7 linked regions of the Homo sapiens genome follow. The protein of the gene in region 7 interacts with the protein of the main gene of each other region in a biochemical or structural test. Each region holds a gene or a part of one and is shown on either strand. Other genes may lie near its edges. The genes, in order: KCTD3, ERBB4, TECPR2, PLCB2, CD226, KIDINS220 and APBA2.

Region 1 (3,004 bases), on a different chromosome or scaffold from region 7:
GTTGGGTATTATAAACAAAATTTATTTCTTTTGGGGAAATTGACTGAAATATTGTAATCACATAGTTGTTCTAGAAAGCCATACTTCTCAAGGTACATTTTAAATTCAGACATTATGTTAACTTTTTAACAGTTTTACCAAATTTCTTGATAGGCATATCTGGTTCTTTTCATAGAAAAACATTTTTACCTTTTAACTTATTTTGTGAATTGCTGCCCAATTGGAAGCCTATTATGTGATCAAGAATTTATTCAAAGGAAATTAGGAAAATTACATGTCACCTTGGTTAGTATGTGAAGCTTTAATTATTGTCCTGTCTCAGGGACAATATTTATCTGTGGTTCTATTATGTTGTCTAGTCTTACATTTAAGCATTATGTAATTTTAATACAAAGTTCCATAATGTCTTTTTAGTTATCATATTGATAAATTCCAAAGTCTGAAGAACCAAGGGCTAAATACTGAATTATGATGGTTTCACATTGGTTTCAAGGATTTTTCCTCCCATCTTTTTTTTAGCTGTTCAAAAATTCAGCATGTCTGTGAATATATGATGGTATTATTTGCATTGGTAATTTTATATACCATCTATATAATAAAGAGTACTTGATAAGTATATTTTTACAAAGAGAAATATGGATATAATACACTTTATGTATTTATATAGTGTGTTTTATTGGTTGTATAATTAATATGTTCCTGAGAAATCACAGAGTGAAATCTGAACTGTCATTTTTAAAAACTGTATTTCAGCCTTCAGCTTCAGCACCATGATACCACCCATGAAGCAGCTACTTACGGTTCCATGAGGCCTTACAGAGAAAGTCCTTTATTAGCAAGGGCAAGAAGGACTGAGAGCTTTCACAGTTATAGGGACTTCCAGACTATTAATTTGAACAGAAATGTAGAAAGAGCTGTCCCTGAAAATGGTAACTTGGGTCCAATACAAGCTGAAGTGAAAGGGGCAACAGGGGAATGTAATATATCTGAGAGAAAGTCTCCTGGAGTAGAAATAAAAAGTTTGAGAGAATTGGATAGTGGATTGGAAGTGCATAAAATAGCTGAAGGTTTTTCAGAATCCAAGAAAAGGTCATCAGAAGATGAAAATGAAAATAAAATAGAGTTTAGGAAGAAAGGAGGATTTGAAGGGGGAGGATTCCTTGGAAGAAAGAAAGTTCCCTATCTGGCGTCATCACCAAGTACTTCCGATGGAGGAACTGACTCACCTGGTACTGCGTCCCCATCTCCTACAAAGACTACTCCATCTCCTCGGCATAAAAAAAGTGATTCTTCAGGTCAGGAGTACAGCTTGTGAAAACTCACCAAAATGAATAGTTGTTTCGTTACATTTAGATGAAAGTTAAACTTTACTGAATTTCAGTACATTAGTTTTTACACTAAAACTTTACAAGATAAAATTGGACTTCATTTAGTATCTTTTTAACAGAATTACTTGGAATAATGAGATACAATAATCATATCTCTTTTGACATTTTGGAAATTTTTTTAATTTTACAAGTACATTTAACAGATCATTTATAAAGCAGGAGTCCATTTTAACACTTACCGACTTTTTTTGGTTTGGAAACATATTACCACGTCTTAATAGGATGGTGCCCATATAGGTGAGCATCCCTTTAGATCATGGGAACCAGCAGACTGCATTCCTAATCTTCATTATGCCTGAGACTTGTCTTACAATGTTACCTTTAAGTGAATCACATAATTGTCTTTGGAACTTGGTCTCCCAACACTTATTGTGATTGCAAAGTGTTTACCAGATATTTGATGAGGTGCTATGTTTGTGAAAAACATATCATGTAATTCAAAAACACTATTGATATTGAATACCAGATACCACTATGTAGTAAGTCTTTTAGGATGATTTTAATTTAGTCGTGCGTCATTTTCTGATTCTCATCATTGGGAGATCTTAAATCTTAGCAAGCATTAGCAATATTAAATGCCAAAATTCCATTGAAACTTTCAAGTTGGAGCAATTGTCTGTGTTTGAAAAGATGAAATAAAAATAATAATCAAGGGCAAAGCTTTGAGTGCCCAGAAGGGAAAGCTGTACCAGTTGCTAACCTGTCTTGTTTCAGGAGCCACCATGTTTTTTTTTCAGTGTTAACAACAATCATGATAATTAAATTAAAACACTAGTTTGTTCACTTGTAGGACTGCAGTTCTGAATTTTGGGTTAAAGGTTTTGGCTGCTGTAAGAATGTGAATTTGAATGTATTTTGAATTGTAAGAGCAAAAGAACGTTTTTGTACAATTTTTTTTCATTTAATTGGAATGATCTTCAGGTTTCTACAAATAGGGTAATTGTAAATTTAAAGCATTAGCATTTATTGGTGAATAATGTATATATCCCCATTCCAAGAAATATAAGTGAGTGAAGTTGAAATAAAATCTTTAAAATTTACTATATTGCCAGTGGTTTCACAACAGTTCTCTTGTATTTATTTATCAATTAAATCAAATAAAAATGATTATGTCAATGCGTTTTCAGTTATTTAAGTAACAGTTCTGTTTAAAGTGTGCTATATATGTTTGTTCATTTCTTTGCTTCTTCCCATAATTTAAAAAAAATGGGGGGAGGGAGAACTTAATATATGTGGAAAATAAGTTATTATCAATGAAAGAAAATATTAGGCAAAGCATAATTTCAAAATTACTAAGATTGTAATTATCTTACACCCTTCTTCCTCTTTATGACAGTTATGTGAAAGTTGGGTGGGCAAGTAAGAAAATGAAAGAAAAAACTAGACTCTAGTGACCAGGAATAAAAGGCCATTAAAAAGAAGATAGTAACTATTATGTAATAGAATCGCATAAAAAGGAAACTGACTATACTAGATTGCATTACAGTACAAGTCAAATCGTTTCTTTCTTTTGCTTACAGGAGATTGAACCTTGATGCAGTGGTTTATGTCTGTCTACTCTGACACTAATTTCTCAGATTGCCCCCATTATGCCTTAATTTTTTCATTATACCTAC
Region 2 (3,500 bases), on a different chromosome or scaffold from region 7:
TGTTGCCTCTACTCTCCTGCACTGGTGTCATAGAAGTCCGGCACTAGAAACCACTGATGTAATCCAGTCATCTTATGTTTTAGGTAAGGAAACTGACAGCGCAAGGAAATTAGATAATATAAACTAGTGGCAGCTCCTGACACCAATATCATTTTCTGTAGCACACATAGAAGTATTTGAAAAACCACTGACACATAAAAAAATAAGGAAACAAATAAAAGGTTATGTTGCATTAAAGAGAATTGAGAAACTGAAATGAAGACAAATGGCTTGGATCCACACTCCTAATTACCATATTGTGTAGTTCTTTCTAAAAGAAAGACAGTGGGATCCTCATGATCATCTTTAATTTATATTTGGAGAGTAATCATTGATTGCATTGATAAGTTATGGCACATGAGGAGTAAAGAAATAAAGCAACTTTTTAAAGACATCGTTCTATAAGAGGATTTCTTTACCTGGTTAGGCCTATGGAGACATAGAATCTTGAATTCCCTAAAAGTCACACAGGAGCCCACAGTACTATCTGTATATAATAGCACTTTTAAGAGTTTCTTTTCTTTCTTTTTGTTTTTTTTTAACCTGGGCTTTATGAAGATGTCCAGTCAGCAGAAAATGCTTATTTTTTCATTTTTAAAATAAGTACTATGAATGCTGAAATAAGATGGATTGTAAAGGATAAACAGTGGGTTCCTCATCACCAGTTAGTTGATGGAGACCTTTAACCAGGAAATCCATGAGAATACTTCAGATTCATCTAGGCCTGTCCTTGGACCTAAGATATGACATGAAATGATAATTTCTATGGTCTTTGTTGGGCCATCCTCTTTCATCATGGCCCTAACTAAGACATAGTTCTATTCTTTGAGCAAGAGCATAAGCAAAGCTTTAAGTACTGACTATAAATTTATTTCTATAGCACCTTTGCCTCACTCTAGTTGGCTTCTGTAAGATGCTACCTCTGGGCCTTTTGACTGCAATATTTTTGACCTAAACTTAATGCTCTCTGGTTGTAGCTGAGTTCCCTCATGTGCCTCAGCCGTCTTGGGCATGATAAGTGTTCTCATGGGCCCATGTGAAAGAAGGGAAGTTTGAAACTTGTTTTGGCAAGAAGAGTCATTTCCTGATAGAAATTGGAGATGAAAGTGGACCCCCGTAAAAGATTAACATAAACACCATGAAACTTCCTGTGCAATATCATTAAGCCTCTCCCATGAGAAGTAACACAGGATCATTACTATTAATCACATTATTTCCAATATTGTAGGGGTTACTGAAGCGTACTAAACACCAATAGGAATATGCAAGATCCAGTTTCTGAGTCCTGAGAGTTAAATTAAAAGGACTCAAGACCGATTGAAGATTTATAATATATTTCATTTCGAACATAGTTTAAATGTGTTGAAAGAGAAGAAAGTGAATGGTACAATAAACACTCTTTTATTTTCCACAAAGATTAGACTTGTAAACAATCGGTTTCACCTGCTAAATCTTTACTGCTCTGCTGACCTTTACTTACTCCTGGTCCCATGTGCTTCTAGTATAGGTGGATATCCAAGTGTTAATCTTTTGAATACAAGTGGGGATCATAAACCTGCTTTCAAAAAATGCGTGTGCTTGTTTTCTCTCCTCTGCTGGGGTTATCTCATGGCTGGTTAGGACTGAAAATAATTGACAACAGATTCTCCAGGCTCTGTGACTATATCAAGTATAGCTGTGACTTGAGCAATAAGTGGCACAGTCTTCTATTTCAGGATGGGTCCCAATCACTATCAAGGGGATGCCTAATAGAGATCATGGGTGGCAGTGACTATTTTGCTCTAGGCAAACTCTTACTGAAATCTTTGTCATTATTTCCTGTCCTTCTCTGTAGGCTTAAAGAATGTGAGAATATGGGTTTCTATAGGGACCTATGAAAACCAAATAAAAATACAACAGGATAATATTTCTTTTATACACATACTTTCATTTTCAGGAATTCCTTTTGTCTGGTAATTTTGTCTAGAACAGAGCAGTTAAATAAGTTTGTTTTAAAGGAAAGTTGACTGCATAGGTATGTTAAAAGCTACTCCCCAAGATTTTTATAAGCATCATCTGGTCCTTAGAAACCTCAGGCAGGGTTATTGCAAGATCCTCTTTATGGGTATTCTTCTTCTTCCACGTCCTCAAACCTCTAAAATCTCCTTCCTGTCACTGTCAGATTACCATTTCTAATATTATCTTAGTTTTTATTCTGAAACTTTTCATGGATCCCTCTTGTAATGTTCAAAGCCTGCTAAAACTGTCTTCAATTTCTTTTTAAATCCATCATAGAGTCTGTTAACATGTACTCTGTCTAAAAACCAGACTGACCTAGTCAATATCTCATGACTATGCCTTCCTTATTGTCCTTACTTTTGCTGATCCCTTTTCCTGGAATTTGTGGCTTACTTGGTGCTTTTACTTGGCCAAACTTTTGAATCTTTTAAGTTTTACTTTAAATTATACGTCTTTGTTACATCTTCCTTCACTGGCTACTCTAGCCAGTAGTCCTTATCAATATCACTTATCTGGCATTTAATCAAACCAACCAATAGTTTTGACTTTTTAAGTACCAATGTTTTTATACTCTGCAGAGACTAATGTGGTGCCACATACATATAAGCTCTTTAAAAATTTTTTTTACATGAATGAATAGCATACATTTGCAGGAACAATTTTAAGCTCGTTCATGAATGGTTATTATTTGTAATTAAACCATATAGTGCACAAAGTAAGCTGTTTGAATAACATAATTATAGAATTCTTAATAATAGCTATTGGGCATGTTTACCCTGCAAATTTCTTTAGTTGCTTTCTTGAGCTTCCTAGGGTATTTCTTCAAGTGGTGTGTTTCTAAGACGCTATCATTCATCCCTATCCCCATTTTTAGAATCTACCCATAAATATGGTGCAATTTCTGTTGGTTTTATTTCTGGCAAGTTAAATATATGTGGAATGTGGATACCACTTTTAAACATGTAAATATTTTGTAGTTCAGTATTTTAATGTTAATGGCTATTATTTTGCTATTTCTTACTTATCTGCCATTTAAACATTTAATCAATTTAAGCAATAAGCATGTACTGATCCACCAGTGTGTATTTCAGGACCATGTTAGGAACTGAAGAGGAAATATAAGAAGCTCAAGATGCCAGCTTTTTCTTTCTTTAAAGAAGAATAGATGAGGCCAATAAAACACAATACAAAAATATGTTATTAAGTGATTTTGCAGACTCTTGGGAGGAATATTTGCCTCCAGATAAAATGTTAATAAATATTTCATGAAAAAGGGTTCCAGATAGAATCTGGCATTTTCTATTCCTAGATATATGTGATAATACAACTTTGTTATAGCTAAGATTTCTCAGTATCTTAAAATAGACAACTAGACATATGCTTACCATTTTAAAAGGATCCTATAAAGGAAGCACTTGCAGTATAACTGAACTGAGAGGTGATGGGGATTCTCTTAGTTGCTC
Region 3 (3,500 bases), on a different chromosome or scaffold from region 7:
AGGTTCAAGCTATTCTCCTGCCTCAGCCTCCTGAGTAGCTGGGATTACAGGCATGCGCCATTATGCCAGGCTAATTTTGTATTTTTAGTAGAGACAGGGTTTCTCCATGTTGGTCAGGCAGGTCTCAAACTCCCGACCTCAGGCGATCCGCCTGCCTCCGCCTCCCAAAGTGCTGGGATTAAAGGCGTGAGCCACTGTGCCCGGCCGCTCCTCTGATTGTTAAAATAGCATTTACAGTACATTTCTTGAAAGTCACCTACTTTAAGGCTTACATCAGATAGTCTCACATTTAGTGGAGTTGCTTTCATGGTTGTGGAAGATGGGGAGATTGAGAAAGGAGGAAGGAAAAATCAGAAACCACTTTACTGATCCCTGCTCTCCGTCTGAGACAGTATGTGGGATTAATGCTCCAAAAGACATAGATTTGCATAGAGTTTTAGAATATTTAAATCTGTCATCTGGGACATACCGTTTACCCTTAACTCAGTTCTTCCTTGTAGGATTTATTTTTCTCTGTGCTTTTGACATTTTTTGGTAATTCATACAAGCCCAAATTTTAATGAGCAAAGAATCCTAATATGTGTCCTCTTGCGGACATCCACATGCTTTATATATTTGGGTTCCTCGGGGAACTTGTTCCTCATGGTGGCAACAACAGCCATGTGGACCCCATCACCCTCCTCCTCACTACCATTACCTCTGATGTCAGAGAGGGCAAATTGGGGTGAATATTCCAAAACATAATTTGTATAAGAAGTGAATAAGCTCTGACTCTTGAGTTTATGAGCTGGGGGCCCCTCAGACAGTGTCATCAAAGGGTTAGAATGGCTTTCAGGAAGGGTGGTGACTTGGAGCCACCAGGCTAAGCTCTGGACCTCTGCTGCCCATAGAGCTTTCTGCAGTGATGAAGATGCTCCCATCTGCCCTGTCTGGTAGGCAGTCCCTGTCCATGTGTGGCTGCTGAGTACTTGCAATATAGCAAGTGCAGCTGAGAGATGAATTTTACATTTTGTTTAATTTTTATTTTATTTTATTTTATTTTTTGAGACAGAGTCTTGCTCTGTATCCCAGGCTAGAGTGCAGTGGTGCAGTCTCTGGTCACTGCAACCTCCACCTCCTGGGTTCAAACGATTCTCCTGCCTTAGCCTCCCGAATAGCTGGGATTACAGGTGTGCACCACCACACCAGGCTAATATTTTGTATTTTAGTAGAAAGGGGGTTTCACCATGCACCATGTTACCCAGGCTGGTCTCGAACTCCTGAGCTCAGGCAGTCCTCCCACCTTAGCCTCCCAAAGTGATGGGATTACAGGCATGAGCCACCGCGCCCAGCCTAAATTTTGTTCAATTTTGATCAATTTGAATTTCAATACTTACAAGTAGCTGGTGGCTGCCTATTGGACAGGGAGCTCTAGGCAAGATCTGCCATTAAGTTATGTAATCTTCAGCAAGTCGCTTCACAGCAGAGTCCTCCCCTCCAGTCTCCAGTGTACACTTCATTGCCTGCAGTCTGCCCCTAACACATGCCCTCAATAGAATGTGGGTGCTTCAAGGGCAGGAATTCCTGTGTCTTATGGACTGCCATGTCCCAGCAGCTAGCCCTGTGTCTGGCACACGGAGGATCCCCGATAAAGAGAGGATGGCGAATGGATCAAAGTGGGCTGTGGTCTTGTGTTGAGGGTACTGTAGCTGGAACTGCTCTGGCCTTGTGCCCTGTGGTGTCGTGTTGCAGAAAAGATGAGTCCACTGCAGTGGGAAGCTCACTGGCCCTTGGGCTTGGGGACAGGAGACAGGTACTCACATGCCTGTTCTCACTCTGCGGTCTACTGGCCTTGATGCTGTGTGGTAATGGACTTCTCTGTCTTGAGTTTGTTCTAATGGAAAATTACCTTTCCCTCTTCCAGGAAACTTAATTACAGGTACACATGTATTTTTCAAATGCCCTTTGAGTAATCTTAAAGTATATTCAAGGCAGAGTCTTAGTATGAAGTATAACTAAGCTGTTTTGTTATACACAGGCATCTCTCATTTGTAAATAATTTGTAAATTGAAGCGAGAAATGCTGTATTCTTAGTATTTTTTTACTTTTTTTTTTTTTTTTTTGAGACAGGTTTCACTCTGTCGTGCAGGCTGGAGTGCAGTGGCATGATCTCAGCTCACTGCAACCTCCACCTCCCAGGCTCAAATGATTCTCCCACCTCAGCCTCCCAAGTAGCTGGGACTATGGGCGTGCACCACCACACCCTGCTAAATTTTGAGACTCCGTCTCAAAAATAAATAAATAAATAAATATAAAAAGAAAGCTATGGCAAATTATTTTACTGATTTTAATATATGAGCTTCTTGAAGAACAAAAACTGTTTCTTAGAGTCTTTTGTATGATTCTTTTAGTTTTGGTGGATTTTTTTTTTTTTTTTTTTTGAGACGGAGTCTCACTGTGTTGCCCAGGCTGGAGTGCAGTGGCGCAATCTCGGCTCACTGCAAGCTTTGCCTCCCAGGTTCACACCATTCTCCTGCCTCAGCCTCCCAAGTAGCTGGGACCCCCGGCGCCCGCCACCATGCCCGGCTAATTTTTTGTATTTTTAGTAGAGACGGGGTTTCACTGTGTTAGCCAGGATGGTCTTGATCTCCTGACCTTGTGATCCGCCCGCCTTGGCCTCCCAAAGTGCTGGGATTACAGGCGTGAGTCACCGTGCCCATCCTAGTTTTGCTGGTTTCTATGAATTTAGAATCATTCAGTTCTTTAGCTGGCTGGTGCCTCTGTGACAACTGGTATTTAGGGCTAGCAAACGTGGATAAGTGCACATCAGCTCTCTCTTGGATCACCAGTGGTAAAACCAGACTCTTCTTTCTTAGTGAGAGATGGTCTGGAGATGTCTGGATGCTCAGAGCGTGTCCACGTGCAGCAAGCGGAGAAGCTGCCAGGGGCCACAGTTTCTGAGACGAGGCTCAGAGGCTCTTCCATGGCCAGCTCCGTGGCCAGCGAGCCAAGGAGCAGGAGCAGCTCGCTCAACTCCACCGACAGCGGCTCCGGGCTCCTGCCCCCTGGGCTCCAGGCCACCCCTGAGCTGGGCAAGGGCAGCCAGCCCCTGTCACAGAGATTCAACGCCATCAGCTCAGAGGACTTTGACCAGGAGCTTGTCGTGAAGCCTATCAAAGTGAAAAGGAAGAAGAAGAAGAAGAAGACAGGTACCCTCTGTAGCTGGCACACACCCATCTGGGGTTACAGTCTTTCCAGATTCTCTGGGAGTGCTGCTGCTCACTGAGTGAGCAATGCTCCATACATCCAAAAGCAGAGAACACATACATTTCTTCCCCAAAGGAGTTTTACTGCAAAATACTTCACATTAACGGAAAATACACACACACACACACACACACACTGTAAGGTCTAAATGATGACAGAACACCTGTGTGTACTCACCACCCTGCTTAAAGGGTCTCAGTTTTGTACTTTTCAATATTTATTTATGTATTTATATTATTTATTTATTTTTTGCG
Region 4 (3,500 bases), about 11 Mb from region 7:
AAAATTAATTATTTAACTAAAAAGACAGGGAAAAATGCTTTTCTGTACAGAGCAGAAGTCTGCATCTTGGCAGCTTCCGCCTTTGGTTCAGTTCCTCTCCCTCGACACGCTGCAGACTTCCAGATCCCTGCAGACTGCCGCCTGCCACTGCCGACCTTATCTCGCTCCTCCAGGCTGAAAACATTCACGCTCAGCTCCCATTCCCAACACTAGACTGGGAATGCATGCCGTTTCTGCTGCCTGCCCTGAACACAGTCCATCAACCACAGCCCCAGCGCCCCCACCACCCAGGGTAGGGGATACAGACAAACCTGCTTGGAGCTCAGGGTCTCACTCCCTTGCCCTGGCTCCACCCCTGTGCCTAGTGTCAGTAACCAGCAGCTCCAGGGTTGATTGGCTCTCCAGGCTCTTGGCTGGGGCTGTGATGTCACCTCTGCTCCCCCACCCACCATTCCTGGCCAAGTTGCTTTCTGGTGGGGACAAGAATGCTGGGGGATGGGCAGGGGTGCAGATCCACTCACTTTGCCTTTGGGGAGGTGGCAGGCACTGAGAGCAGCTTCCACCCGCTTGCGGTCAGCAGGAAACATCTGGAAAAAGCTGAAGGGGCAGAGAAAGGTACCAGGTACAGAGAGGAGTCAGGCCTGAGAAAGAAAGGCTTTGGGGAGCCCCTGGAAGCCTGGGGAGGGGTTGGGGGGCTCACTTCTTCACCGGAATCTTCCCTTCAGAGTTGAGCTGCATCTTGAGCTTCACAAGGCTGGGGGCAGAAAGCAGCCCGTCAAGGCCCAGGGCTGGCATGCTCAGCACCAGGGCTCAGGCCAGGCAGAGGGCACTTACATCTTGTCCAGGAAGGTGCTGCGGGAGGCGTTGGCCGTCAGCGGATGTTTGACTAGGGCCAGTACGTCCTCAGCCCAGGCCTGCAGGACCACAGAGAGCAGCGGTCAGGCTCCTGAGCACCCCCGCCCAGGCCTGTGTCTCTCAGGAAGTCCAGGCTATCCCAGGGGCCCAGACCCAGGCCCAGTGCTCCCTGGCACACCTTGCCCACGTTCTCCTTGTAGGAGACGAAGTTGTGGAAGGTGAGGTCCACCATGTCCGGGCCGGACACCACCGTGAGTGTCTTCAGCAGGAAACTGTTATCAGGAAAGTCCATGTTGAAGACGTCCCGGAGCTTCTGGCTCTGCAGCACGTGGTGGTATGGTTAGGATGGAGGTGTGCTCCCTCCCTGCCCAGTGTGGCTCTCTCTGGCCCTCCCCTCAGCCACTTGGGCTATGGCCCACTGGGCAGAACCCCATCCCCATCCCAGGAACCACAGGCCTTAGCATCTTCCTGTCCCTGACTCCAGCGGCTGGGATGGGAAGGAGAGGCCCTGAGGAAAAGGTTAGCCAAGATGGCGGGCAGGCGGGGAGGCCGGCCTGGGAGTCCTGTGTGTGTTGGTTGCCACTTTTGTTTGAAGATAGATTCTTAGCTCCCAGTCTCAGGAAACCCCGCTTCCCACCAATCCCTTCCTCCAATTTTCCTACCAGCATTAGGCAAATATAGGCAAACTAGTCCGGGGGTGGGGGTGTAAGCCACCCCTCCCAGACAGACTGGGGTGCTTTAGGGGCAGGAGGTGACCCCTCCTCCCAGATCCCTGCCATCTCAGCTCACTGTGCGCAGTTCTGAAGCTCAGAGCCCAGGCGAGCCCAGGAGCTGCCGCTCCCCTTCCTTGGCTTCCAGCCACGGTCCTTGCTGCCCAGCCAAGGAACCATTCCCCGTGCTTCAGAAGTCAGGCTTCCCACCCGCACAGGGACCCCTGCCCTTGCCCCATGGAGCTAGTAGCTGTGCTTGAGCCTGGGCTGCTACTGGACACACCTACCTTGGGCATCTTGGCAAACTTCCCAAAGCGAGTATCCCGGATGCTGGTGATATCCAGAAACTCCATCTCCTGGGGGCAGGGTGCGGATCCCGGTGGGAGCAAAGAAGGGATGTGGGACAAAAAGTCCAGGTCAAGAATGAGCAATAGGGAGAAGGGAGCTTCCACACCCTTCAAATCTTGGCCAACACCTCTCTCTAGATGCCAGGCTGCCCAGGGCCAGCTGGACCCAAACTTCCCTTCCTATGGCCCAGGTTCTCTCTATTCATGCAGATCCTCCTCCCTTTCCCTCTGTCCATTCCTCCCTGGCAGGGAGCTGGAGCCTGCAGTGTCTCCTCCACCATCCTGGACCCTTCCCAGCTTCCCCTTCCCGTCCTCCTGCCCAGAGGCTGGGGCCTATCTCTCATCTCCCAGAGCCCCAAGTCAACCCACAGCCACAGGCAGAGCATCAGCCTTCAGCAGCAGTGCTTTCGCCTGTCTCTCTCTCTCCCCAAGGGATGCTAAGGATGGAACATTTGGGTAGCCACAGGTTGGAGTGACTGCATCCTCCTTTCCAGAGCAAAGAGCCCCTGCCTACAGGGGAGCCTCTGGAGCCACCCTTCCAGGCCATTCTGTACTCCCCAGCATCCATGCCTCCACCTTGGTGCAGCCAGGGGGCTGTCTGGCCTCAATGATAAGCAGGAGTCCAGGGCCATGGCACACAAGGGTTTTCTCACCTTACTTTGATACGTCCAGTATAAGTAGTAGCCCTTAGGATCCACACGGAGGATAACTGGAGAGGCAACTGTAGTTTCCTGCAGAGAGAAGGAGCCAGCACTCTGTTCCAAGACCTCAGGCCAAGCCTCCCTGGTCCAGGCCAGGGGTTTCAGAGCTCATTATCTTCCCAGGAGGTGCCCATCCCAGAAATCTGAAGGCATTTCCTTTTGTTGTCTAGAGCTAAGCACCAGGAGGGACAGAGGATTGGGGATGCCATTTCTGGAAGAGAAGGGTTTTCCCCTCTAAAGCCCAAATAGACATTCTCCCTCTAGACCCTAAAGAGGATCTTGGCCCCTACCTCATCTCATAGAGCGAGACTCCCTACTGCCACCCAGGAGAGATTGACACAGCGAGAGCCAAGAGCCCAAACTCCTGCACCAGCATCCAAGGCCCTGCACAATCCAGATGCAACCTAACCTCCCATATGCCCCTTCTTCCCTCCATGAACACCTCCTACCCTGTCCATTCAACTGTCCCATAAAGATACCAAGCCTTCCCACCTCCAAACCTAAGTGCCCAAATCTCCTCTGCTTGAAATAACTTCAAGGACAACCCAAGCCCCCCAACTTCTGAAAACCCTTCCTGAAATGTGCTACAGTAACCGGGGGGATGTGAGTCACAGACCTACAAGCCCACCTAGGAAATCCCCAGGGACTCATGGACTCCAGGACAACAAGCCTGTGCTAGACCTTGAGCTTGGTGCTTGGTGCTTGGCACTTGAATGTGGTGTTTGCTGAATGAGCAAATGAATGAATGAATGAATGAATGAACTCACCTTCTAAAGTCCTGTTCCACTCACTGACAGAGCACATAGGCTACCTTTTAGTTTAACGGTCTTTGTATGTGTACATAACAAGATATTAAAATTAAGGTTTCCAGCAAGGCACAATAGTTG
Region 5 (3,500 bases), on a different chromosome or scaffold from region 7:
AATAACTTATCACTATTATTCAATATCTTACTTATCTATACAATAATAGTATGTATAAAAAATGACTGCAGGCAAACATTCTAGGTTTTTGTGTGTTCAAAAAATGAATAGATCAATACTAGGGCTTACAAAACAAATTAACTGACCGGTTGCATTTTTTTGAATGCAATAGATCATTAAAAAAAATGATCTGGGCAGAGGCAACAGTAAAGTAAAGATTCAACCACATAATAGCCATGATTGAGTAATCAACTCACTTGTGATGCTGGAAACTATGTTTCATCTGGATACCCAGTTTCACCGAGAAAACTAAATTGGGCTGAAAATTGTGGTTGATCTGTTTGAGTAGAGGTTATTTTAGCTTGTGAGCAGTGACACGGTGCTCTGGGATTCTGGTCGTGTTGCTCCATCATATAAATTAACTGTCATGGACATTTTACTTTCCATGTAGGTAAAGATAATAAAAGGCTGAGGTTCACCACACAATGTCATGGAAAGGGACATATCTGTCAGCCCAGTGCACACCAGTTCAGACAATCCTCATGTCCACAAGCTTTATATCTATTCTAAATTCATAGGAGTGGGACAGAAGGTTCTGGATTAATGGAATCCTTAAAAAAAAAAAAAAACTGTCTTGTCTACAACCTGAAACTCTTCTGGAATCCAAATGGACTGGGAGCAAACTGGTTGGTTTTTGACAGAAATAAAAGGCCAAGGAAATAAGCAAAATTTATTTCCTTTCTTCAATAATTTTATAATCCAACTCAGGAGCACAGAGTCTCAAAGTCAGTAACCTCCCACAAGCCATCTACAGGCAAGATTTATAATCTGTATAAATAAGATGTATCATCTATATACGGATGTATTTATAACTTACAGCACTCTATTCCCCTGTCCTTCCTCCTTGTCAATCCTATACCTCACATCGTCCCAGAGGAAATATCTGGGAAGATTCTCTTAGCTGTGGCACTATGATTTCCTAGTGAATAGTTTTGTAATCTTAATTTACTAATCCCATCCTTCTATTCAGATGACCAGCAATTATGTGCCACTTATATTAAAAATTCAAAATAAGAAAATGAAAGTTAAAAAAGTAAATAGCCCTATCTGAAAGTTATATATGTAAACAAGAGTTCATGAAAGTTTTTTCTCCAATCACTGTAGTTGATCTTTTGAAAGTTCAGTTTCTTTGATCAACAATCAGTAAACCTCAAAGGTTAAACGTTGAAGAAAAAAAATCTGGAAAGAAAAGAGGTAGAAAACTTAAAATTAAAATGGACACAGCCCCTACTAGAATGAATAGAAACATTAACATAATCGGTCAAGAACACTTACTGGGCATATTCTGAAAAGATGCTTTGACAACTTTAAGCAGATGCCATAATCCTTAATCTCAATTAATTTCTGATAACCAGAGTTTGGAACATTACAAATAGATGCAGGCCAGGTGTGGTGGTTCACACTACCAATCCCAGCACTTTAGGAGGCTGAGGCAGGGGATTGCTTGAGCCCAGGACCATCCTTGAAACCCCATCTCTACCAAAAATACAAAAATTAGCCAGTCTCATAACCCGGTCTCAAAAAATAAATAAATAAATAAATACAAATAGATGGAAGTTAATAAGTCACTCGAGGGTAGCAATTTTCAGACTATAAAAGTTTGAGAAATCCAAGATGCTTAATATTTCAATGATGGGGAAGCAGTTTGGTCTGATGTGGAAAAAAACATAGACATTGAGACGGCTGAAACTCTATAGGAAAGAAAGCAAATGTGATGGAAACTTAGTCAGTTAGAAAAAGGAGAAAGTAGGAAAGTGTGAGTGTTTTGAGGCAGTGGAAAGCACAAACTGAGATTCAAATCATGCTGACAGTATCTCTCTACCCTGTGTAGGACACCTTTGTGCCTACAAAGGTAGGTGGATCAGTGGCCTATGACCCATCACTGATCCCAGGACCAGGTGGCTTCACAGATGAATTCTATCAAACATTCTAGGAATTAATGCCAATCCTGAGTTTAGAAACAGTTCTACATTATCATGTGTAATCAATAAATGATTTAATTCTTTTTTAAAAAAAGAAGCAGTTCTAAACTCAGTTTATGAGACCAGCATCACCCTGATACCAAAACCAGACAAAGACACCACAAAAAAAAAAAAAAAACCTACAGGCTGACATCCCTAATGAACACAGATGAAAAAATCCTCAACAAAATACTAGCAAACTAAATTCACCATCACATTAAATGGATTGTATATTCTAATCAATTCTGATTTATCCCTGGCATGCAAAGATGGTTCAACATATGTAAATCAATCAATGTAATACACCACATTAACAAAGTGATATAAAAAGGCCACATGATCATCAAAATAGAGCATAAAAAGCATTTGACAAATTCAACATCCTTGTGTGATTAAAAAAAAAAAACTCTCAACAAATTAGGTACAGAAAGAATTTACCCCAACACAATAAAGGCCATCTATGAAAAGCCCACAGCTAACATCATACCAAGTCATGTAAGACTGAGAACTTTTGCTCTAAGATCAGGAAAAAGACAAAGGTGGCCACTTTCAACACCTCTGCTTAACATAGTACAAGAAGTCTTAATCAGAGCCATTAAACAAGAAAAAGAAAACAAAAGGCATTCAAATCAGAAAGGAAGAAGTAATATTATCTCTGTTTGCCGATGACATAATCATATATGTATAAAACCCTAAAAGTGCCACAAAAAAACCTGTTCAAACTAATAAATGAATTCAGTTAAGAGGCAGGATACAAAAATCAACATATAAAATATCAGTCAGGTTTCTGTACACAAACAGCAAACTATCCAAAAAAGGAATTAAAACAAAATCCCATCCCCAATAACAATAAAAGGAATAAAGTATTTAAGAATAAACTTAACCAAAAATGTTAAAGACTTGCACACTGAAAATCATATAGCAACTTATTCTTTCATGATTATTGTTTTGCCATCTTTGCTCAAGAACTAATGGTAGCTTTGCTTGACAATTATATGAGATGCAGGTTTTCACTGTCATCACTTAATTTAACCTACCTCGTCCCATATTAATACATAACTTAGACTCTCCATACCAACCTAGTCATTTGACTACAGTCTCCCATGCACCATCTCCCCATTCCTCCTGCATATTTGGGGTTACTCTTCATAACCTGTTTCATGTCATTCCTCAGCTCTAATCATCAATGCCTCATTTGAACCTTGATGGTCCCGCCTGAGTGGTCTCACTGGTGGAAGACGATTATACAAGGACATGAGTAATTATACTTATCAATAGCAAACAGAAGTTTTTTCAATATTAGCCTCCTCCAGAAACTTTCTGCAAGAGCTGATTTTATTTCTTTTGCCTTCATTCTTTTTATAGCCAATAAGGTCAGTTTAAACAATAGTAGTCTGCAAATCATTTAGCTAATATTAAAATATTTGACAAATTATTTTAGTGGCACCTAAAATACTTCTCTTATGACAAATGAAAATC
Region 6 (3,500 bases), on a different chromosome or scaffold from region 7:
AAGAATGCCTTGATGAGAAAGAGAAAGCTCTGAGGGATTCCCATTGGGATAAACAGAACTCATCTTTCCAGTGTGGAACCGAAAACCTTTGTGTTACATTTTTTTCTAATTGTAATATTTGTTAGTGTGATTTAGTGATTATCAAAGTAAGCCACACTTGCCTCATTTTCTCCAAATTCTCATTTTCATGTCATGTAGGACTTAGGATCATGTCACATTTGATGAAACCACATAGGTTTGGGTTTGCAAGGTTAATGCATTTGCATAGTTTTTTTTTCTTCTAAGATCCTATTGCAATTCTAGCAGCTATCAGGAAGTTGGCTAGAGATGCCTGAGATTTGGGGGAAGGTTTTAACGAAGTCTTTATAGTAGGTATTTCACTAAGGTATACTTTTTATATCAGAGTACTGTGTAATAAAGTAGAACGTTAATAACCAGCCTCTAATATTTATATACTTGAAAGAATGACATCTGAGAGAAGTTTTTTAAAGAATTATGAGCATATGTAGACACCATTTTACTCATCTCAGCCAATTTTAGAAAGGTTTCAGATAATGTCAGTTTCCTTACAGAGCTGGCTCGTGCTAGTCCCTGTTTGCATGAGTCAAACACCGGCTTTTCCATGGATAAGCCCCACTTTCTCCTTCAGGCAGCTGGTTGGTGTCAGGAAAGAGCGGGGTCTCCCACACGAGTCCTTTGTGATGATTTTGTTCCCATCGGGGTAGTGGTTTTCTCCCCACTCAGCTCTTTGCTCCTAGACCCCGGCTTTCTGAAGCCCCTCAGAGCCGCTGGCCTCCTCCGTGCTTAGGGCTCCGCGGCATTGTTGCAGCAGGACCTCTGTCACAGACTTGCTGTGTATACTGTTTTCTTCAGGATTAACTTGGAAACTGAACATTCTATTGATTATAAACATAGCTATTTCATAAATTTGCCCCAGTTAATAAAGTCAGGTTTTACATTTTATAAAAGCAGTAAGCTACCTATTATTAATAAAGAAAATGCTGTTGTTTCATTTAGGGGAAACTAGAATTACAGGGAACCAAAAGTAATAACTTCCTTTTTTATGATTTTTTTTTTCTTTGAGATGGAGTCCTGCTATGTCACCCAGGCTGGAGTGCAGTGGCGTGGCCATGGCTCACTGCAACCTCCCGCCTCCTGGGTGCAAGCGATCCTCCTGCCTCAGCCTCCCAAGTAGCTGGGACTACAGGCATGTGCCACCACTCCCAGCTAATTTTTGTAGTTTTAATAGAGATGGAATTTCACCATGTTGGCCAGGCTGGTCTCGAACTCCTGACTTTAGGTGATCCACCCACCTCAGCCTCCCAAAGTTCTGGGATTACATGCGTGAGCCACCGCGCCGGGCCTTGTGAATTTAATAGACTGGAAAATTAGTGGGTGGGCATTCTTCATATCTGTATCTAATATAACGGATAAACAAGTTTGCCAGGCCTACTTCATTTAGAACGTTGTTAGTGACCAACACGCTTATGAGAACAGATGTCTTTGTCCCCTCCCAGCAGCTTGTGTTCATGTTCATATTTTCTAAGATTAGAAAACAAAAACTAACAGTTTTGTTGTTGCTCATGACAGCATAGGTAGTTTTGGAAATAGGAGGGTTAGTTCTTCGGTTGGTCCCAGAAAATGCCTAAGACATTTGGGAAAATATGAAGTGGCTGATGTTGTTCAAATTCAGCTTGTTTATTGTATTATTATATGGGATGATAACCTTTTTTTTGGTCAGCCTTTCTGGTCTCTAGAGACTTATTTAAAACTAAATATAAGCATACTTGGCAATCACTAGTAATTCAGAATATTTCACATTCTGTCTTTATACCCATAATTGTTTTAATTTTTACTCAGGCAAACATAAATGGCCGTGTGTTAGCTCAGTGTAACATTGATGAGCTGAAGAAAGAGATGAATATGAATTTTGGAGACTGGCACCTTTTCAGAAGCACAGTAAGATATTTGTAACATTGTGATGTTTACAACATTATTTTATGATAACATTCAAAATTATTTATAACATTGTAGAAAACCAGTATCAATAAGTACTGGCCTAAACTGGTATTTTTTTCATATTTTTTTAAATTTAAAAACTGCTTCTTACACTTATGTGCAATCCTGTGTTGTGGAAAATACACACAGCAGCACTTGGCAGCCTTTGCCTTTTTGGGCATTTCACTCAGAGATTTGGGGAAGAGGCCGCCTGCCGGTTCTTCATGCTTTCACCTGCCTTAACTCTCATCAGGCTCCTCAAAGCCTTCGAGGCCTTGACCTTCAGCATTCATCCTTATAGGGCTTGCATTGCCCAGGTTTAGCAAGAATCCTGTTAAGTCAGTTTACATGTGTGATCACCCTCAGTATTTGATCAAACGCCTCACTAACCCCCCCACCCCCAGGTGATGTCGGCTCACCCTGGCCATCGGCGTACCAAGAGTCCCCCACTCCTGCTGCCTCCCCTTAGTAATGTTCCATCCACGACCCCCACCCTGCCCCTTGGTGGTAGATCCCCACTCATTCGTGCTTATTCCGAGTTGGACTCCCTTCTGTAGTGAGACTGCTTACCCCTGTTGCCATAGTTCTGAATAAAATCTGGACCTACCGCCCTACTCCTGGCCAGCTCTGGTTTTGACACAAGCCAGCTGCATTTTTCTTTGTCCTCAAGTTAAGTTTTAAACAGAAGTAATAATTTAATGGACAAATTGCAGTGTAGTATATGTATGGTGGTTTCTACCATTGCTTCCTTTAGTATTAATGAACATGAAAGATAAGCTGATGTATAAAACAAATTCACTAGAAATTCACTTACCAGAAGTATGCTTTCTCATTGCTGTTGCAATAGCTTTATAATGTTTGGTATTTCTAAATATTTCTAAAGCTTCTAAAATATGATTTGTTAGTGTAAATATTTATGTTTTTCTTCTGTTAAGGTACTAGAAATGAGAAACGCAGAAAGCCACGTGGTCCCTGAAGACCCACGTTTCCTCAGTGAGAGCAGCAGTGGCCCAGCCCCGCACGGTGAGCCTGCTCGCCGCGCTTCCCACAACGAGCTGCCTCACACCGAGCTCTCCAGCCAGACGCCCTACACACTCAACTTCAGCTTCGAAGAGCTGAACACGCTTGGCCTGGATGAAGGTGCCCCTCGTCACAGTAATCTAAGTTGGCAGGTATTTATTGAATGGCATTTTTCATATTATTGAAGAATAAGCACACCGTTCAGTTCACTGAGATTATATGGGCATTTAGACAGTCATTCAGAAAATGCTTACTGAATACCTAAGTGAACAGGAGACAAGATGGAGGGCTCCCTGTACTCAAGGAGCTGCATCCATGTGGAGAGGGGCAGTCAGTGAAACAAACAAAAAAGTAGCTCATGTAGACATTGATGAGAGCTGAGATATCCATCAGGGTCACAGCATGCAGAGTCAATAGGGATTAGGCCACTTGAGCTAGGGTGGTCAGCAAATTCAGCCTTTCTCAGGCGATCTTCCTGTTGC
Region 7 (3,500 bases):
CTCATTTTCTTCGTGAGAGCAAACAACCTGATCTTCTGACCATTTGTCTTGGTCACCTGGGCTACCCAAACTGAGTGAGAAGTCAGGAATGAGCCGGTAGGTTCCTGGGGAGAGGCGTGTGTCCTCGTGAGTTGCCGGTGCCTCCCTTGACTGCTTTTCCCGGAGCTCTGTGTGCCCTCGTTCTCCTTGGTGTGGATGCGTGTTGTTCTGATGATGAGTTAGCGGGGGTGGGGATGGCGCACTGTTTGAACAGATGTGCCCTCACATGGCTGCGGGAGGACGTGGTGGGAGGTGCTGTGGTGAAGTGGCCCCACACATGGCTGGGCTTTGTGGGGTTTTGACTCTGTCCTTCCCAATGTTCCTCCCCACAGTGGCTGCCTCCGGGTGATGATGGCTGTGTGAACGACTGCCATGGCCCACCGGAAGCTTGAGAGCGTGGGGAGCGGCATGTTGGACCATAGGGTGAGACCAGGTCCTGTCCCTCACAGCCAGGAGCCCGAGAGCGAGGACATGGAGCTGCCCTTGGAGGGCTATGTGCCCGAGGGCCTGGAGCTGGCTGCCCTGCGGCCAGAGAGCCCCGCGCCAGAGGAACAGGAGTGCCACAACCACAGCCCCGATGGGGACTCCAGCTCTGACTACGTGAACAACACCTCTGAGGAGGAGGACTATGACGAGGGCCTCCCTGAGGAGGAGGAGGGCATCACCTACTACATCCGCTACTGCCCTGAGGACGACAGCTACCTAGAGGGCATGGACTGCAACGGGGAGGAGTACCTGGCCCACAGTGCACACCCTGTGGACACTGATGAGTGCCAGGAGGCGGTGGAGGAGTGGACGGACTCGGCGGGCCCGCACCCCCACGGCCACGAGGCTGAAGGCAGCCAGGACTACCCAGACGGCCAACTGCCCATTCCGGAGGATGAGCCCTCCGTCCTTGAGGCCCATGACCAGGAAGAAGATGGTCACTACTGTGCCAGCAAAGAGGGCTACCAGGACTACTACCCCGAGGAGGCCAACGGGAACACCGGCGCCTCCCCCTACCGCCTGAGGCGTGGGGATGGGGACCTGGAGGACCAGGAGGAGGACATTGACCAGATCGTGGCAGAGATCAAGATGAGTCTGAGCATGACCAGCATCACCAGCGCCAGTGAGGCCAGCCCCGAGCATGGGCCTGAGCCAGGGCCTGAGGACTCTGTAGAGGCCTGCCCACCCATCAAGGCCAGCTGCAGCCCCAGCAGGCACGAGGCGAGGCCCAAGTCGCTGAACCTCCTTCCCGAGGCCAAGCACCCCGGAGACCCCCAGAGAGGCTTCAAGCCCAAGACCAGGACCCCAGAAGAGAGGCTGAAGTGGCCCCACGAGCAGGTAGGACCCTGGCTGTCCTGGGGAAGGGAGCAGAGGGGCCCGAGAGCAAGGGACCTCAGGGTACAGGCCTTGCAGATGCTGAAGCGAGGCGGTGGGGGGTGCTGGGTGCCTCACAGTTCTAATGGTGGCTGAGCTCTTCATTGGTCCAGTTGGGAGACATGTTGCGTGGATGCTCCGGCCACTCTTAAGCTCACCGCTCAGACTCAGGACTAAAGCCGGTTGAGGGCTGAGTGGCAACTCGTGTCTCGCAGAAGACACCCCTCCTCCCACCCTAGAAGAGAGGTTCGATTTCTTGCCCACTGCCCTGGTCTGCTCATGGTGGGGCAGTATGTGTGGGAGAGCCCCTCAATCCTCAGGGGTGTACTCAGACCAGCAGGGCAGTGGCAAAGACGTGGGGGTGCTGGTGCTCACCCACTGCTGCGGCCAGTGTTGGGTGGCCTGGTGGCTGGGGTCGGGGCCAGAGTGCATTTCACAATGGACGGGTCTCTGAAAGCCCGGGGGCCTTGGCCTGATGGGCAATCAGCTGTGAATACCTATTTGGAAAAGGATTTTTTGAAGGTTTGACAAAACCTCGGGGAAGAAACGCATGCTAATGAGGGCAGTGGATGTCAGCATAACTGTATTTTAATTATAGCAAAGTCAGCGTGCATTCTAATAAACACATTTGAAAAGCCACCTTCCAAAAAAAGCCTCACTGTGAGTATATAAAGAAGATGTGATTATTGGACTTGTGTGAAGGAACTTCTATTTGGCCAATTATGTGGACTTCTGTCATATTTTTTTACAGCCTTAACTGTTAAATATTTTTTTCCGAGAAGAGTTCATGAATTTGAGTGTGTGTGTGTGTGTGTGTGTGTGTGTGTGTGTGTGTGTGTGTACTGAGAGCTTGGGTTTGGAATGGAAATCATTGGATTTTCAGCACTTATATTTTAATTGACTCCTGGATTTTCAGCACTTGTATTTTAATGTCTTGTATTCTCTCTAAAGAACGTTAAGTGTCAGTTGACTTCACTTTGGGGGTGTTCCTGTCATTCACAGCAATTCCGTGTTTACAGGGGGCTGTGGGATGCATAGGAGCTCCCATGGTACTAGTGGGTGTTGGGAGAGTTCACCCCTAAGGCCAGGAGGCTCTGGACCCTGGGTCTGGGCTTTAGGCCAAAGCAAAGTGTTTCTTTGGTCTTTAGCAGGGCCTGGGCTTGTCCCACAACAGTGGTGAAGGCACCTCAGGGATTGACGTGGGCTGTGCAGAGCGTGTGACATGCTGCGTCTTATTGTGACAAATGGCATCGCTAGCCAAGTTCTTGTCAAAGAAGATTATCTTTAGAGCGTGGTGGGGAGTAAGCAAGACCTGATATTTTCTGGTTTTGTGCTTCATGCTAACCAGATGGTAATTTGGGTAAAAACACAGAGATCTTGCGATTGGAGAGCTGGGAGGTAAATGAGTGGGAATGAATGGATGGATGGGTGATAGTAGCTGTTTAAAAGGGCAGGTGGAGGTAGGGGAAGTCCCCAGCCATTGTGGAGGATCAAGAGGATGTCTGTTCTTCCCAGAAGAGGCATTGAATGAAAAAGTATGTCACTTCTCCCCCTAAGGAGAATGTGTCCTTGAAGGACATGCTCTTGTCTGAGACACTGGAAAAGTTCATTTAAACTGGTTAATGATTGTATAGCTTTTGTTTTGTTTTGTTTTTCCCTCCCTCCCTCCTTTCTGTCCTTTCCTCCTTTCCTCCCTTCCTCCCTTCCTCCCTCCCTCCCTCCCTCCCTCCCTCCCTCCCTCCTTCTCTCCCTCCCTCCCTCCCTCCTCTCTCTCTCTCTCTCTCTCTCTCTCTTTCTTTCTTTCTTTCCTATCAGTTCACAAATTAATTCTGTCAAGGGGAACACCTGCTAGTTCCAGAGTTCCAGGCTGACAAGTACCCTGGTGCCAGGGGCCCTGACTACTCTTTCTGAAGACTCTACCAGGCCCGCTGCACGTGGGCAGGGTCTCCACATTCTTAGATTTGAGTACCCCATTCCAGATGAGGACCTCTTTGAAACCTGACCAGAAAGAGCCGTAGAATTCATCTTGAAAGCAAGATTTTTTATGAAGGATGTGCACTGGGAGATTTGGTGCTGCCTTGCTTGAAATAACAACCTGCTTT

Evidence for each region.
Region 1: the proteins of APBA2 (region 7) and KCTD3 interact in a test that uses a peptide from one of them, tested with the Homo sapiens proteins (one large-scale study listed by IntAct).
Region 2: the proteins of APBA2 (region 7) and ERBB4 interact in a test that uses a peptide from one of them, tested with the Homo sapiens proteins (one large-scale study listed by IntAct).
Region 3: the proteins of APBA2 (region 7) and TECPR2 interact in a test that uses a peptide from one of them, tested with the Homo sapiens proteins (one large-scale study listed by IntAct).
Region 4: the proteins of APBA2 (region 7) and PLCB2 interact in a test that uses a peptide from one of them, tested with the Homo sapiens proteins (one large-scale study listed by IntAct).
Region 5: the proteins of APBA2 (region 7) and CD226 interact in a test that uses a peptide from one of them, tested with the Homo sapiens proteins (one large-scale study listed by IntAct).
Region 6: the proteins of APBA2 (region 7) and KIDINS220 interact in a test that uses a peptide from one of them, tested with the Homo sapiens proteins (one large-scale study listed by IntAct).

The regions. Positions count from the first base shown.
Region 1 is NC_000001.11:215,619,304-215,622,307, forward strand, and holds the end of KCTD3 (BTB/POZ domain-containing protein KCTD3), read left to right. Parts: intron 1-753; coding exon 754-1,315; 3' UTR 1,316-2,504; downstream 2,505-3,004. UniProt on the Homo sapiens protein: Accessory subunit of potassium/sodium hyperpolarization-activated cyclic nucleotide-gated channel 3 (HCN3) up-regulating its cell-surface expression and current density without affecting its voltage dependence and kinetics.
Region 2 is NC_000002.12:212,528,803-212,532,302, reverse strand, and holds part of ERBB4 (receptor tyrosine-protein kinase erbB-4 isoform JM-a/CYT-1 precursor), read left to right. Parts: intron 1-3,500. UniProt on the Homo sapiens protein: Tyrosine-protein kinase that plays an essential role as cell surface receptor for neuregulins and EGF family members and regulates development of the heart, the central nervous system and the mammary gland, gene transcription, cell proliferation, differentiation, migration and apoptosis.
Region 3 is NC_000014.9:102,428,941-102,432,440, forward strand, and holds part of TECPR2 (tectonin beta-propeller repeat-containing protein 2), read left to right. Parts: intron 1-2,855; coding exon 2,856-3,188; intron 3,189-3,500. UniProt on the Homo sapiens protein: Probably plays a role as positive regulator of autophagy.
Region 4 is NC_000015.10:40,301,436-40,304,935, forward strand, and holds part of PLCB2 (1-phosphatidylinositol 4,5-bisphosphate phosphodiesterase beta-2), read right to left. Parts: intron 2,644-3,500; coding exon 2,566-2,643; intron 1,922-2,565; coding exon 1,853-1,921; intron 1,175-1,852; coding exon 1,034-1,174; intron 915-1,033; coding exon 835-914; intron 755-834; coding exon 701-754; intron 598-700; coding exon 522-597; intron 175-521; coding exon of another isoform or gene 157-174; exon of another isoform or gene 1-156. UniProt on the Homo sapiens protein: The production of the second messenger molecules diacylglycerol (DAG) and inositol 1,4,5-trisphosphate (IP3) is mediated by activated phosphatidylinositol-specific phospholipase C enzymes.
Region 5 is NC_000018.10:69,888,874-69,892,373, forward strand, and holds part of CD226 (CD226 antigen isoform a precursor), read right to left. Parts: intron 1-3,500.
Region 6 is NC_000002.12:8,733,114-8,736,613, reverse strand, and holds part of KIDINS220 (kinase D-interacting substrate of 220 kDa), read left to right. Parts: intron 1-1,860; coding exon 1,861-1,959; intron 1,960-2,933; coding exon 2,934-3,170; intron 3,171-3,500. UniProt on the Homo sapiens protein: Promotes a prolonged MAP-kinase signaling by neurotrophins through activation of a Rap1-dependent mechanism. Provides a docking site for the CRKL-C3G complex, resulting in Rap1-dependent sustained ERK activation.
Region 7 is NC_000015.10:29,053,474-29,056,973, forward strand, and holds part of APBA2 (amyloid-beta A4 precursor protein-binding family A member 2), read left to right. Parts: intron 1-371; 5' UTR 372-411; coding exon 412-1,362; intron 1,363-3,500. UniProt on the Homo sapiens protein: Putative function in synaptic vesicle exocytosis by binding to STXBP1, an essential component of the synaptic vesicle exocytotic machinery. May modulate processing of the amyloid-beta precursor protein (APP) and hence formation of APP-beta.